Linked DNA regions of Homo sapiens. The protein of the gene in region 2 purifies or fractionates together with the protein of the main gene of each other region. This does not show direct contact. Each region holds a gene or a part of one and is shown on either strand. Other genes may lie near its edges.

The links. Proteins that work in one complex are often made in the same cells at the same time.
Region 1: the proteins of ODAD4 (region 2) and TTLL5 purify together in Homo sapiens (affinity purification with mass spectrometry; 2 studies listed by BioGRID and IntAct, with this or other methods). This does not show direct contact.
Region 3: the proteins of ODAD4 (region 2) and GNPAT purify together in Homo sapiens (affinity purification with mass spectrometry; 2 studies listed by BioGRID and IntAct, with this or other methods). This does not show direct contact.

What each region holds. Positions count from the first base shown.
Region 1 is NC_000014.9:75,775,509-75,779,928, reverse strand, and holds part of TTLL5 (tubulin polyglutamylase TTLL5), read right to left. Parts: coding exon 4,299-4,420; intron 3,183-4,298; coding exon 3,079-3,182; intron 355-3,078; coding exon 227-354; intron 1-226. UniProt on the Homo sapiens protein: Polyglutamylase which modifies tubulin, generating polyglutamate side chains on the gamma-carboxyl group of specific glutamate residues within the C-terminal tail of tubulin.
Region 2 is NC_000017.11:41,946,377-41,952,029, reverse strand, and holds part of ODAD4 (outer dynein arm-docking complex subunit 4), read right to left. Parts: intron 2,878-5,653; coding exon 2,681-2,877; intron 1-2,680. UniProt on the Homo sapiens protein: Component of the outer dynein arm-docking complex (ODA-DC) that mediates outer dynein arms (ODA) binding onto the doublet microtubule. Plays an essential role for the assembly of ODA-DC and for the docking of ODA in ciliary axoneme.
Region 3 is NC_000001.11:231,267,975-231,272,394, reverse strand, and holds part of GNPAT (dihydroxyacetone phosphate acyltransferase), read right to left. Parts: intron 1,638-4,420; coding exon 1,395-1,637; intron 84-1,394; coding exon 4-83; intron 1-3. UniProt on the Homo sapiens protein: Dihydroxyacetonephosphate acyltransferase catalyzing the first step in the biosynthesis of plasmalogens, a subset of phospholipids that differ from other glycerolipids by having an alkyl chain attached through a vinyl ether linkage at the sn-1 position of the glycerol backbone, and which unique physical properties have an impact on various aspects of cell signaling and membrane biology.

The DNA of each region.
Region 1 (4,420 bases), on a different chromosome or scaffold from region 2:
ATCTCTCTGCTGTTAATTATCTTGAAAAAAAATCAGACCATGCCCTTCTTCTGCTTTTAGGACAAAAAGTACTGTCCCCCATTCTCCACTCCCTCCCCAAGCTGCAAAGTCTCATTACCTTGGGGACTATTAGTGCTTAGCCAACACATTATTCCTCATTCTCCTTTGCATTTCTCATTTCTTCACTTGTTCTTCTTATTTTTCGTTCATTAACCAGTATACTTACCACCTTTTGCCCCACTATCAGAATAATTGTTGTTGTTCTTAGAAATTTTAGAGTGAGTCCCCAGGAAGACACTAGCAGACTTGTTCTTTTGGGTATAAAAAGTCAACACCTCCTCCAGTTCAGCCTCACTGAAATGAGGAGAAAAAGTATGGTCAGACAGGAAGCTATTCTGGAAAATCTTTCCACCAGATTTTATTATGAAAACAGAGCAAGCTGGAAAAGGGAAAAATGAAAAGCACAAGCTGAAAATTCCCTATTAATAGGTGGTTAAAATAAAATATAAATGAAAGCAATCTAAAAAATTTAAAGCATAAGGCTTTATTCATCCCGCAGTGAATTTTCTAGATCTACACTGTCTAATATGGTAGCGACTACTCAGTCATATGTGACTATTTAAATTCAAATTAAATTAAAGATTCTTTTCCGTAAACTAGCCACACTTCAAGTGTTCAGTAGTCACCCACAAAAAGTTCTATTGGACAGCCACATTCTAGAACAGGCGGCAAACAACTACACACTGTGGGCTAAACCTGACCAGCGACTTGTTTTTATGGCCCCCAGCCAAAAATTTTTTAAAATATTTTTAAAGAATATGCAAAACAACAATAACAAGACAACAACCACCACCACCACCACCCATATGTAGCCCACAGAGTCTGAAATGTTTATTATCTGGACCTTTACAGTTTGTTCAGCTCACTTCTAGATAATTGAAGTACCTTCACTTAAAGAGCCACTTGTCATTTTCATTGCCTATGTCAGAAATAAGGAAATCCACCAATAACCATAGAATTCCCTAACCATCTATATAATGCACGAGACTAAAGTATATCATCTCTAAATCACTTCAAATTACTGAAATTATATGCTCTTTATGAACAGCCACAAAATAGAAAGTATAAGGAAACAGATGAGAGGCTAGTGGATTCTTCTATTGAACATATCACACATGGACTTTAACATCTGTAGCAGCTTCTCAATGGCCTTTTTCTTTTCTTTTTCTTTTTCTTGAAGCTTGGCTACGTTCTAGGAAAGTGGCTATTAAGTGAAGAATGCCTGCATTATCACAGAGAACCTATATCCCATCTTCAGAAAACACACTCTAACCAGAACCTAGAAACCACCTTTATGAATCTCAGCGTAAACCCTAAAGTCTTCAAAGTAGCCAAATGCCACAAGATAAGTCTCTCAAGTGACTATCAAAGATCTACAGCTGAGGGTGCAAACCTTTGCCTGTCAGTGTGTTTTATTTGGCCCTTCACAGAATACTGAAAGGCAAAGGTTACGGTTGGTCAAAATACAAGCTGCTTTATATCTGTCTTATCCTTTGCCCACTTCATAATTTATGTTTTCCTGTCTGACTCCAGCAAGTATTTGAATTTACCAGCCCTGAAAAGTATCCATGTACTCAAACCAAACTTAATAAAAGAAGAACTGACGTCACCACATTATTTCCCAACAATCAACACCTAATCCCCAATCAGAAGTAATTATGTTCCAATGCATTTTATCTCCACATCTATATAATTAGTTAACAATATGTTATAATTCATTTTTAGTGTCCAGTTAGACTTGCTTGGGAAATAGTGTTCTTTTAAAGGCTGGGTTTTTTAAAATATATATTTTAGGGATTTTGAAGATCCTTAGGATAAACCTGAAAATTATCTTTTAGCTTTAAAAAGTAGAGCTATTTTCTGGACACAATCTGTTTTTTGTTTTTTTTTTTTAATCCTTTTCTGTTTTTATAACGTTGATGAGAGAAGCTGTTACTATACCTGTTTTATCAATCATATTACTTAAGACTCAAAAATGTCAACAAATAACACCATACAATTATGGACTCCTACAAAATGATATATTTGTTTGCTGTAAAGCGCATGATAGTGAGGTCTGAAAAGGGTATTAAACAAAGATTATATTATGCTGGTGATTGATAAGCTCCTACCCCTACCTCATTTAACTTCACCAATCAACATAGGGTAGATTTTCTACTGATTTTCTCCCTATTTGTGACTTTGACAGTTGAAGCCTAAGTAATGGGGCTTACTGTTTTTTTATCCTATTTTATTTTAATGGTTTTGCACATCTCTCTATTTAGAAAAAAATCCTCCAGTGTAAGTTTTACAAGATTTAAAATTAAGTGCCTTTGTTATCTCTTCCTTTGTAAGCCAACATAAATGGACAAAATGGCCTGGCTGACTTTTATCAAGATAGAGAGATGAATATCGAGATTTTCCATTTCTAAAGGCTAACCCTAAGCATGAAGAACTTGTTCTATTTTATATAAATTAGGTGTAACCCTCACAGAGTGGAGAAATTGCAAATTCCTCAGCCTACTCAATGTAGGCAAAATGTGGTCATTTCTACTCCATGAGTAGGTCAGGGACAAATTCAGACCCAGTAAATATGAGATGCCTCTAATTTCAACTTTCCAAAGAGCTCTCATGTGACTTCAAGAGATGTGCACTGTGAAGGCTGTCGAGAACTACAGCCCTGCTACCCAGCAGTAATGTTTTGATAACTGAAGCCATGAAAATAGCAACATAATTGGCTAAGATATGGAGAGGCCAAACCCATACAATCTTTTCTCCTTCTGAGAATGATTTCTTTTTTCATCATTTAGAGACAGGGTCTCACTATGTTGCCCAAGCTGGCCTCGAATTCCTGGGCTCAAGCAATCCTCCTGCCTCAGGCTCCCAAGTAACTAGAACTAAAGGGGTGTGCCACTGTGCCCGGCTTTAAGAGTGATTTCATTCACATCCATGTATCAGAAACAAAGGAATGCTGGGTACTCAATGAGCATTATGGAAGATGGAATAAGACAGCTTTTATCAATCAAGAATGTCTACTACCTTGCTTGTCTGATGAACTCCTGAAAGTTTTCCATATTCACCCCATCTTCCTCTTCTTCCTCAACTTTCTTCTTTGATTTCTTTTCAGCCATTTGTTCTGTTTCCTACCCAGTGCCCAAACCCCACAGAAAAACAACAAGATAAAACTGACTCCTAATAAATATGCACTTCATCATGTAGTTTCAATAGCCTTGAGTTAATCTGTCCTTATAGTAAAGACATTTAATTCTTGTATGTACTTTTGCCACCTATAAATTTGACATATTACTTTTGGCCATGATTTTGTAAAACATTTTGAAATTCCCAAGTAAAAGTTGCAGAATGAATGTAAATTTTAATCATGTTTTTACTTTCTACTTACACAGCCCATTGATTAAAGAGGTTTTTATAGTAGCTTAGTAATATCTATGATCACCCTTGTAGCTTTAACAATATGACAACAGAGACACAGTATTTTGTTCCAATTAGGAGAGGAAAGACAGATCTTGGAAGGTACTCTTATACCAGCTTCCATACTGAATAAATTCTTCACTTATATAAGACATAACAAAATTCTCAACAGATCTGGAGTAAATTGTGGCTATGAGTTTGGTGCACTGATATTCTACCAACAATTCCATGCAACTTTAGAAAAGCCATTTAAATTTCTATCAGCTTTTCCTTCTGCAAACTGACCAAACCTCCCAAACCCAAACACCCAAAATGATATTTTTAATGCATTCTGAGATCCCGGGATATAGAATGCTTTGCAAAATATTCTAATTAAATAGTATATTTCTTGGGCTTGACTGTAAAATTCTGTAATGTATAAAATGTTTTAAAGATGAAAGTATAACTCGTTCAAGAAAGAATATGTCATTACATTCAATCCACAGCTCAAATTTGTTCTCCAATGGTCAATTTGCCACTTTCTACAGGCACTAACAACCGTGCAGACTCACACAGCCTAGGATTCATCTCAGTGCTCAAAAGGAATATGCCTTTTGATAAGAATTAAGAATTAACTATGGCCACTGGGCCTTCAGAAGTAATAAATAGTTTTTCAGACCAGCTGAGTTAAGGTGTGGGGTCCTGCTTCCCCTAACAGTAATACATAAGGGATGGTGATGCCAGAGAACAGAAGAAGAGTGTCTCCATCCAGTTGGACAGAGGCTTCTATCTAGTCTGTTTCTGACAGTGTATGGCAATCCAAAGCACAAGACTAACAGAAAAAGACTTACCTTGTTGTATACAATGATAAAGTCACCCAGCTGGTGGGCCAGGATTCTTCTGCGTTCCAGAAGTGCCAATCGTCGACTGGGTAATACCATCCTCAGTGAATGCTGGAGGTTATTTGATGCTC
Region 2 (5,653 bases):
GATGAGATCTCCCTATGTTGCCCAGGCTGGTATCAAACTCCTGGGCTCAACCGATCCTCCCACCTTGGCTTCCCAAAGTGCCAGGATTATAAGTGTTAGCCACTATGGCCAGGCTAATTTTTTTTTTTTTTTTTTTTTTTTTTTTTGCGACAGAGTCTCGTTCTTTCACCCAGACTGGAGCACAGTGGCGCAATCTGGGCTCACTGCAACCTCCGCCTCCTGGATTCAAGCAGTTCTCCTGCCTCAGCCTCCCGAGTAGTTGGGACTACAGGCGTGTGCCACCACACCTGGCTAATTTTTGTATTTTTAGTAGAGACGAGGTTTCACCTTGTTGGTCAGGCTGGTACCAAACTCCTGACCTCAGGTGATCCACCTGCCTCGGCCTCCCAAAGTGCTGGGATTACATGCGTGAGCCACCGTGCCTGTCCCCAGCCTAATTTTTAACTGAGTATGTAATTTAAAGTTATCTCAATGTGACAGGAAAACCACTTGACCCCGGGAGGCGGAGGTTGCAGTGAGCCAAGATCGCGCCACTGCATTCCAGACTGGGCAACAGAGTGAGACGCCTTCTCAAAAAAATAAATAAATAAAGTTCACCGGCTTGTAAGGATAAAGTTCAATGATTTTGAGAAAATTTACAGAGTTGAGGCCGGGCACAGTGGCTCACAACTGTAATCCCAGCACTTTGGGAGGCTGAAGCAGGCAGATCACGAGGTCAAGAGTTCAAGACCAGCCTGACCAACTTGGTGAAATCCCGTCTCTACTAAAAATACAAACATTAGCCAGGTGTGGTGGCGCACGCCTGTAATCCCAGCTACTCAGGAGACTGAGGCAGGAGAATAGCTTGAACACGGGAGGCGGAGGTTGCAGTGAGCCAAGATTGTGCCACTGCACTCCAGTCTAGGTGACAGAGCAAGACTCCATCTCAAAAAAAAAAAAGAAGAAAATTTACAGAGTTGTACAGTGGCCACCACAATCCCATTTTAGAACATTTCCATCACTCTGAAAGGTTCCCTTGGAGGCCGGGTGCAGTGGCTTATGCCTATAATCCCAGCACTTTGGGAGGCAGAGGCGGGCAGATCACTTGAGGTCAGAAGTTCGAGACCAGCCTGACCAACATGGTGAAACCCCATCTCTACAAAAATACAAAAAAATTAGCCAGGAGTGGTGGCACACGCCTGTAATCCCAGCTACTCGGAAGGCTGAGACAGCAGAATCGCTTGAACCCAGGAGACAGAGGTTGCAGTGAGCCGAGATTGTGTCACTACACTCCAGCCTGGGTGACACAGCAAGACTCCATCTCAAAAAATAAAAATAAAGAAATAAAATAAATTAAAAAATAAAAGGTTTCCTCGGCCAGGCGCAGTGGCTCACACCTGTAATCCCAGCACTTTGGTAGGCTGAGGTGGGTGGATCACTTGAGGCCAGGAGTTTGAAACCAGCCAACATAGTGAAACTGCATCTCTAAAAATACAAAGACATAGCTGGGTATTATGGTGCACACATGTAATCCCAGCTACTCAGGAAGCTGAGGCACAGGAATCATTTGAACCCATGAGGCAGAGGTTGCAGTGAGCTGAGATCGCGCCACTGCACTCCAGCCTGGGTGACAGAGTGAGTCTCCATCTCAAAAAAAAAAAAAAAGCTTCCCTCATAGGACTTGGGGAGTCTACTGGACCTCTCTGTGCCTCAGTTTCCCTATCTCTAAAATAAGGATGATAATGCCTACCTACATCATAATGATTCAATACAAGAATGCTGGCTGGGTGTGGTGGCTCATGCCTGTAATCCCAGCACTTTGGGAAGCTGAGGCGGGTGGATCACCTGAGGTCAGGAGTTCGAGAACAGCCTGGCCAACGTGGTGAAACCCCGTCTCTACTAAAAATACAAAAATTAGCCGGGTGTGGTGGTGCGCGCCTGTAATCCCAGCTACCCTGGAGGCTGAAGCAGGAGAATCGCTTGAACCCGGGAGGCCAAGGTTGCAGTGAGCTGAGATCGTGCCCCTGCAGTCTAGCCTGGGTAACATAGTGAGACTTCGTCTCAAAAAACAAAACAGGGCCGGGCATGGTGGCTCACGCCTGTAATCCTAGCACTTTGGGAGGCCGAGGCGTTTGGATCACCTGAGGTCAGGAATTTGAGACCAGCCTAGCCAACATGGTGAAACCCTGTCTCTACTAAAAACACAAAAAATTAGCCAGGTGTGGTGGCAGACGCCTGTAATCCCAGCTACTTGGGAGCCTGAAGCAGAAGAATCACTTGAACCTGGGAGGCAGAGGTTGCAATGAGCCGAGATCGCACCACTGCACTCCAGCCTGGGCAACAAAAGCGAAACTCTGTCTCAAAAACAAAATGAAACAAAACAAAAAAAAAGTACCAAGGCAGAAGGAAAGTGGCTCAATACATGGGCACTGTTGTGAGGATGACACGATGCTGTGTGGGTCTGCAGCTGACCTCCTCAAGGGCAGAGGTAGGCTCAAGGTACCCCAAGCTCTAACCAAGCTTTGCTTAATGAAAGCACTTACCACGTGCTGGTCAAAATAGAGTGGCTTATCCCCACTCTCAGAATAATCTGGGAAGGAGAAACACTGGGATGGTAAACTCAGTCCACAAGACTCCTAGCCCTGGTGTGAGCTGGGCCTGAAGGCTGGAAAAGGTAGGGTGGTCATCTCTGAGCCCATACCTTGTGCCTGGGCCACCAGAACACTGGCATTCAGTTGCCACTCAATGTCCCCTTCCTCCTCGGCACACTGCTGGGACTTCTCGCCATAATTCTGGGCCTGCCAGGCCTGGTCCAGCTCCAAGTAGCAGCGGCCGATCTCGTGGAACAGCCAGGTCTTCTCCAGGGTGGTTTTTGCCAGAGGGATCTTTTCTTCCCACCTGGGGACATGAAGAACCAGAGTCAGCTTCATCCCCCAAAACCATGCACTGGGCCACAGGATGCCAAGGCTTCCTGCTGGGTGGCGGAATAAAACTTGTTCTCCAGCTACCAGTTCTTTTGGATACAAGGGTGGAGTTCATAAGCATAAAGATATTTTAAGACTACTGAGACTATTTTGGTAACACCTATGGAATGTGGAATTTAATACAACAGTTGAGGCTGGCGTGGTGGCTCATGTCTCTAGCGCTTTGGGAGGCTGAAGTGGGCAGATCACCTGAGGTCAGGAGTTCGAGATCAGCCTAGACAAGCTGGCAAAACCCTGTCTGTCTACTAAAAATACAAAAATTAGCCAGGCATGGTGGCAGGCGCCTGTAGTCCAGCTACTCGGGAGGCTGAGGCAGAAGAATCACTTGAACCCGGGAGGTGGAGGTTGCAGTGAGCCAAGATTATGCCACTGCACTCCAGCCTGGGTGACAGAGCAAGACTCCATCTCAAAACACACACACATACACACAACATAAATAATGTTTAAGAATATTATTACCAAGTATGGTGGCTCATTCCTGTAACCCCAGCCTTTGGGAAGCCAACGTGGGTGGATTGCTTGAGCCAAGGAGTTCAAGCCTGGGCAACATGGCAAAACCCCATCTCTACAAAAAAATACAAAATTTAGCCAGGCACAGTGGTGTGCGCCTGTAGCCCAGCTACTTGGGAGGCTAAGGTAGGGGGATCGCTTAAGCCTGAGAGGTTGAAATTGCAGTGAGCTATAATCGTGCCACTGCACTCCCACCTGGGTGACAAAGTGAGACCCTGTCTCAAAAAAAAAAAAAGGAAAGAAAGAAAAAAATTACTAAGAATATATGAGAGAAAAATCAAAACAAAAAAGATTGGAATGAAAAAACACAGTATCAATAAAAGAGTAGGATTAGAATTAGTACTTGTCTTTGGGTGGTGAGACTGAATACTTTTCTCTATTTTTCTGTATTTTCCAAATTAATATTTTTTATTTTTATTTTTATTTATTTATTTTTTTGAGATGGAGTTTTGCTCTTGTTGCCCAGTCTGGAGTGCAATGGCAAGATCTCTGCTCACTGCAACCTCCACCTCCCGGGTTCAAGTGATTCTCCTGCCTCAGCCTCCCAAGTAGCTGGGATTACAGGCATGTGCCACCACACCTGGCCAATTTTGTATTTTTAGTAGAAACGGGGTTTCTCCATGTTGGTCAGGCTGGTCTTGAACTCCCGACCTCAGGCGATCACCCGCCTCAGCCTCCCAAAGTGCTGGGATTACAGGCGTGAGCCACCGCACCCAGCCATTTTATTTTTATTTTATTTTATTTTATTTTATTTTTTCTTTGAGACAGAGTTTCGCTCTTGTTGCCCAGGCTAGAGTGCAGTGGCGCCATCTCAGCTCACTGCAACCTCCGCCTCCCAGATTCAAGTGATTCTCTTGCCTCAGCCTCCTGAGTAGCTGGGATTACAGGAGTGTGCCACCACGCCTGGCTAATTTTGCATTTTTAATAGGGACGGGGTTTCCCCACGTTGGCCAGGCTGGTCTGAACTCCGGACCTCAGGAGGTCCGCCCACCTCGGCCTCCCAAAGTGCTGGGATTACAGGCGTGAGCCACCACACCTGGCCTGTGCTTATTTTTTATTTATTTATTTTTTTGAGACAGAGTCTTGCTGCGTCACCCAGGCTGGAGTGCAGTGGCGTGATCTCGGCTCACTTCAACCTTCGCCTCCTGGGTTCAAGCAATTCTCCTGCCTCAGCCTCCTGTGTAGCTGGGATTACAGGTGCACGCCACCATGCCTGGCTAACTTTTGTATTTTTTTTCTTTTTTTTTAGTAGAGACAGTGTTTCACCATGTTGGCCAGGCTGGTCTCGAACTCCTGACCTTGTGATCCGCTCGCCTCTGCCTCCCAAAGTGCTGGGATTACAGGCGTGAGCCACCGCGCCCGGCCTGGCCTGCGCTTATTATTAAAATATTAATTTGGAAAATGCACACCCGGGCACAGTGGCTCATGCCTGTAATCCCAGCACTTTGGGAGGCTGAGGTGGGCGGATCACCTGAGGTCGGGAGTTGGAGACCAGCCTGACCAACGCGGGGAAACCCCGTCTCTACTAAAAATACAAAATTAGCCAGGCGTGGTGGCGGGCGCCTGTAGTCCCCACTACTCAGGAGGCTGAGGCGGGAGAATGGCGTGAACCCGGGAGGTGGAGCTTGCAGTGAGCCGAGATCACGCCACTGCACTCCAGCGTGGGGGACAGAGCGAGACTCCGTCTCAAAAAAAAAAAAGAAAAGAAAAATTAGCCGGACATGGTGGCACACAACTGTAGTCCCAGCTACTTGGGAGGCTGAGGCAGGAGAGAATCGCTTGAACCTGGAAGGTGGAGGTTGCCATGAGCTGAGATCACGCCTCTGCACTCCAGCCTGGGTGACAGAGTGAGACTCCTTCTCAAAAATAAAATAACATAAAATAAAAATAAAAACAACATAACATAACATAAAATAAAATAGTGATAAATTGAGCTGGGTGCGGTGGCTCACGCCTGTAATCCCAGCACTTTGGGACGCCATGGCGGGTGAATCACCTGAGGTCAGGAGTTTGAGACCAGCCTGACCAATATGGTGAAACCTCGTCTTTACTAAAAATACAAAAATTAGCTGGGCGTGGTGGCGGGCGCCTGTAGTGCCAGCTACTCGGGAAGCTGAGACAGGAGAATTGCTTGAACCTAGAGGCAGAGGTTGCAGTGAGCTGAGATTGTGCCATTGCAC
Region 3 (4,420 bases), on a different chromosome or scaffold from region 2:
TACCTTTAGTGTGTTTCCTGGAAGGAAGATGAACTCATCTGCAAAAACATCACGTAGGAAGCGAAAGCAACTGTAGACATCCTCTGGAAATAAATGCATCATGTAAAATTACAACATTGCCCTTTAAACTTTAAGGGAGTACCAGGAAGTCCTTACTATCACAAAATGTATTTCAAAGGCATATTTTATTCATGTAACAGGGACAAGAATTAAGTCCCCTGAGGGAAGCTAAATTAAACCCAAATCTTACCCACAGAGCAAACTACGGTCTAGCATAGTTTGTTTTTTGTTTTTTGAGATGGAGTCTCGCTCTGTCACCCAGGCTGGAGTGCAATGGTGCAATCTTGGCTCACTGCAACCTCCGCCTCCTGGGGTCAAGCGATTCTCCAGCCTCAGCCTCCCAAGTAGCTGGGATTACAGGCACTCGCCGCCATGCCCAGCTAATTTTTGTATTTTAATAGAGACAGGGTTTCACCATGTTGGTCAGGCTGGACTCGAACTCCTGACATCGTGATCCTCCTACCACGGCCTACCAAAGTGCTGGGATTACAGGCGTGAGCCACTGCGCCCGGCCCTAGCATAGTTTTTAAATGATTGACTCTAACCTACAACCAGGCTTCTACTCAGCGAGACATCACAGTCCTTAGAGGCCAGGACGCTTCATTTTTCCCTACCCCATGGCTCCCTAGTAGGGAAGGAAAGGTACTGATTTCTTAATTTCCCTCTATATTCATATTTCCTGGTATCTTTATTATATCTGTAGCACTTTTCCTTAGAATCACTGTGGAGCTTTGAAAAGCCAAAACCAAAACCAAAACCAAACACCAATGGCTGGCCCATACCCCAGGTCAACTGAAGAAACTTTGGGGTGGGGCTCACTCCCCTAGTAATTCTAACATAGGGCCTTGACAGAACCCCCTGGCCTTGACTACAGGCTCCTGTGAACATGACGTGTACTGTACTCATTTTTATACTCCTGATACAATTAGAACAAGACCATGCATCTCGGGAGTACTCATCGACTGCTGACTGCTCATCTGCCCACCTGCCTTTGCTGGATCAGGGAGCTGGCACAGCCAAAACAGTGCCGCAGACCAGGAAGTGGAGAACTGTACTCAAATGCCAGATCCTTCTCTCAGTAATTATGCAACTTTCTAGGCCTCATTTTCCATATTTATAGAAGGAAAGGTTTAGATTATTTCCAGGTCCTCCCAATTCCAAAATTCGAAGCAGATGAACAAGTATTTGGGGAACAAAGCTAACTTTTTCTCAGTGATAGGCCTGCTCTTCACCGGCGTGAGGCTGAACATTACAAGGCTTCAAATGTGGCTCCCTAAATGGAATGGAATGGCCAGACCTCTTCTAAAAGTCAAGATTGCATTCCTGAAAATTACCTTTCCTGAACCCTGGTGTCATCTGCAATGCTACTGCTACTAAGGATGGGCGCACAAAAATGTTGAGCAGCTGGTTCCTATAAGCTGAGCACATGAGGAGAGTGATGTGCTGGAGCATAAGCCCATCGACCACTTCCGAGTCTCCGGAGTCCACTTTCAGAATCACCTGGTCTTTGACAAGGCTGGCAATGTTGGAATGCAGAAGAATGCTGGCCGGGACAACTTCTTCAGCAGGTTTATTATCTACACACAAAGACAATTCATTCAAACAAGATGGGTCACTGCAGGGAGTCTTAGGCCTAGCGTACGTTAACGTTATTAATGGTAACGTGACAGATGCTCATTTTCAAGTGACAGGTTTTACTGTCTACCAATTACGGTAATGATACCAAATCTGAAGAAAAATTTAAAAGTACTATTTCATAAATCAATTCTTTCTCTCTCTCTAAGGACATGTAACATACTTTCTTACCCCCAAAATTTGTCAGCCATTCTGAAAGGCACATCAGTTTCTACTCTGAAAATGAACACCACTTCTGTGTACTTCAGGAACCAAGGGAATCTAAAGTTTTCTAACAGCAAGTTACATAACTGGAAAGTCACATGCACGGGAATGTAAGAATACTAAGAAAAAGGCCCATGATTAGTGTATGAATACATTAAAACATACAACACACACACACATGCACACACACCCCTTGCTTAGACCCATACTAAAATGGTAAAAATATCACTTTGCAGTTTTCCCCAAATCAAAGATAACTAAAGGGGCAGCTCCATGGCAGTTGGTAGCTTATCACCTGACATATTGGCCTGCAGACAGCTGCCAGGCAGGTAGAATTACAGAAGCATAATGAAGAGATGGTGATATTTAACAAATATTCTCAGCACGGAAAATTATTCTGCAGTTAACCTGAGCCAAAGAGCTGGCTGGCAGTGGCACACTGCTCAAGTTGGGTGGCAAGTTCTGCTACTGCTTCAAGGCAGGGACAAGTGAGAGGTATGGCTTCCTCCTGGACTTGATCACATTCATTCTTGAACAACTTGCCTTGTCTCAGCTTGCTCAATTGAATAATATTTTATGTGAAATGATCATAAAAAGCTTGAGATATGAACATGCTTAGGAATGTGGGGTAATCTGCATAAAAAAAGAAAAAAGGAACAGAACTGTAGTGACACTGAACAGATACTCTTAGTTATGGATTAGTTATGGCATTTATCCCATCCTGAAAAAGCAAAACACTTTAGAAAAACAAGTACCTATGTTTTCATATGTTCCTGGGCCAAACAATGATGGGTTTGAGCCCTTTTAGCTATTTCTCATGACATCCAACACTTGCTACTTGTATCATAATTAACACATCCTTTGCCTCCTACCAGACCCAGCCCATCACAGCACTGAGAACAGGTGTCTGATTTGTCTCTCTCTTGGTGACTGGCATTTTTGTCAGTAAATCCTCCTCATCTCTTGGCTGTGCCCTGAGTGCCTCCACTGCTGCGGCTCAGGCATCTCAGGCATCCTGCATTTCTCATTGGGACAGAGCAGCCTCCTAACTTGTTTCTATACCTCCAGTCTTCTGATGGTGGATGGTGGGGAGGAGGCGGGGAGGTCCATCTTTATTTTCCATCTACCCACCACCCCATCTGGGCCAACACTTTAATATCACTGATGAATCTCTGGGGCCCAAGCCTCCCATCTTGCATTCCTCATCCCTGCCTTGGCGAGGATCCTCTCCTGGTCTTCCTGAAGGGTTCAAAAGTCGCTTCTGTGAAGTCTTCCTGAGTATGGTCCCTTTCCTCTGCAGCACTCTCAGGAACCCTCTGCAGCATGCATGTTGCTCCTTGTCTCTGTTCACTGAACCCTCACAACTTGTTTACACATTACCCACCCACCCTGCCCTCTGCAACCCAGGGGAACGTCCAGGATGGGGATGGCATCTTGTTCATCTTCATATCCCTGGTAGTACCCAGCACAGAGGAGGTATTCAGTATTGGGTTGATCAAAGAACAGTAGGTACTTGACTTCAAATAATTATCTGGTCTTTAAAAAAAAACGCATTTCCAACTGTAGCCTGTACAATTTTTTTTTTTTTTTGAGACGGAATCTCGCTCTATCACCCAGGCTGGAGTGCAGTGGCGCAATCTTGGCTCACTGCAATCTCTGCCTCCCAGGTTCAAGCAATTTTCCTGCCTCAGCCTCCCGAGTAGCTGGGATTACAGGTGCACGCCACCATGCCCGGCTAATTTTTGTGTTTTTAGTAGAGACGGAGTTTCACCATGTTGGTCAGGCTGGTCTGGAACTGCTGACCTCGTGATCCGCCCGCCTCAGCCTCCCAAAGTGCTGGGATTACAGGTGTGAGCCACCACGCCCGGCCTTTTTTTTTTTTTTTTGGAGATGGGGTCTCACTATGTTACTGAGGCTGGTCTCGAACTCCTGGGCTCAAGTGATCCTCCCACCTCAGCCTCCCAAGTAGCTGGGATTATAGGTGTGTACCACCATGCCTGGCTAGGATTCATGACTTTATTTTCCACCGTACTAGGTGCCAAGGAAATGGTATTCTAGTCCTCAAGATATTCAGAGTCTCGTAGTGGGAAATGACATGTAAACAATTATTCTCAAATAATCAACGTGCTGTGTTCACTGTGTCCTATAGTGATAAAAACAGATTTGGTGTCCTTTCTCTTTTTCTTTCTTTTTTGAGACAGAGTCTCGCTCTGTTGCCTAGCTGGAGTGCAGTGGCACAATCTCGGCTCACTGCAAGCTCCGCCTCCTGGGTTCATGCCATTCTCCTGCCTCAGCCTCCCGAGTAGCTGGGACTACAGGCGCCTACCACCACGCCTGGTTAATTTTTTCTATTTTTTAGTAGAGACGGGGTTTCACCGCGTTAGCCAGGATGGTCTCAATCTCCTGACCTCGTGATCCACCTGCCTTGGCCTCCCAAAGTGCTGGGATTACAGGTGTGAACCACCGCGCCCGGCCTGTCCTTTCTCTTTCTGAGCAATCCTTTGCTCAAGTCCTCTATAGA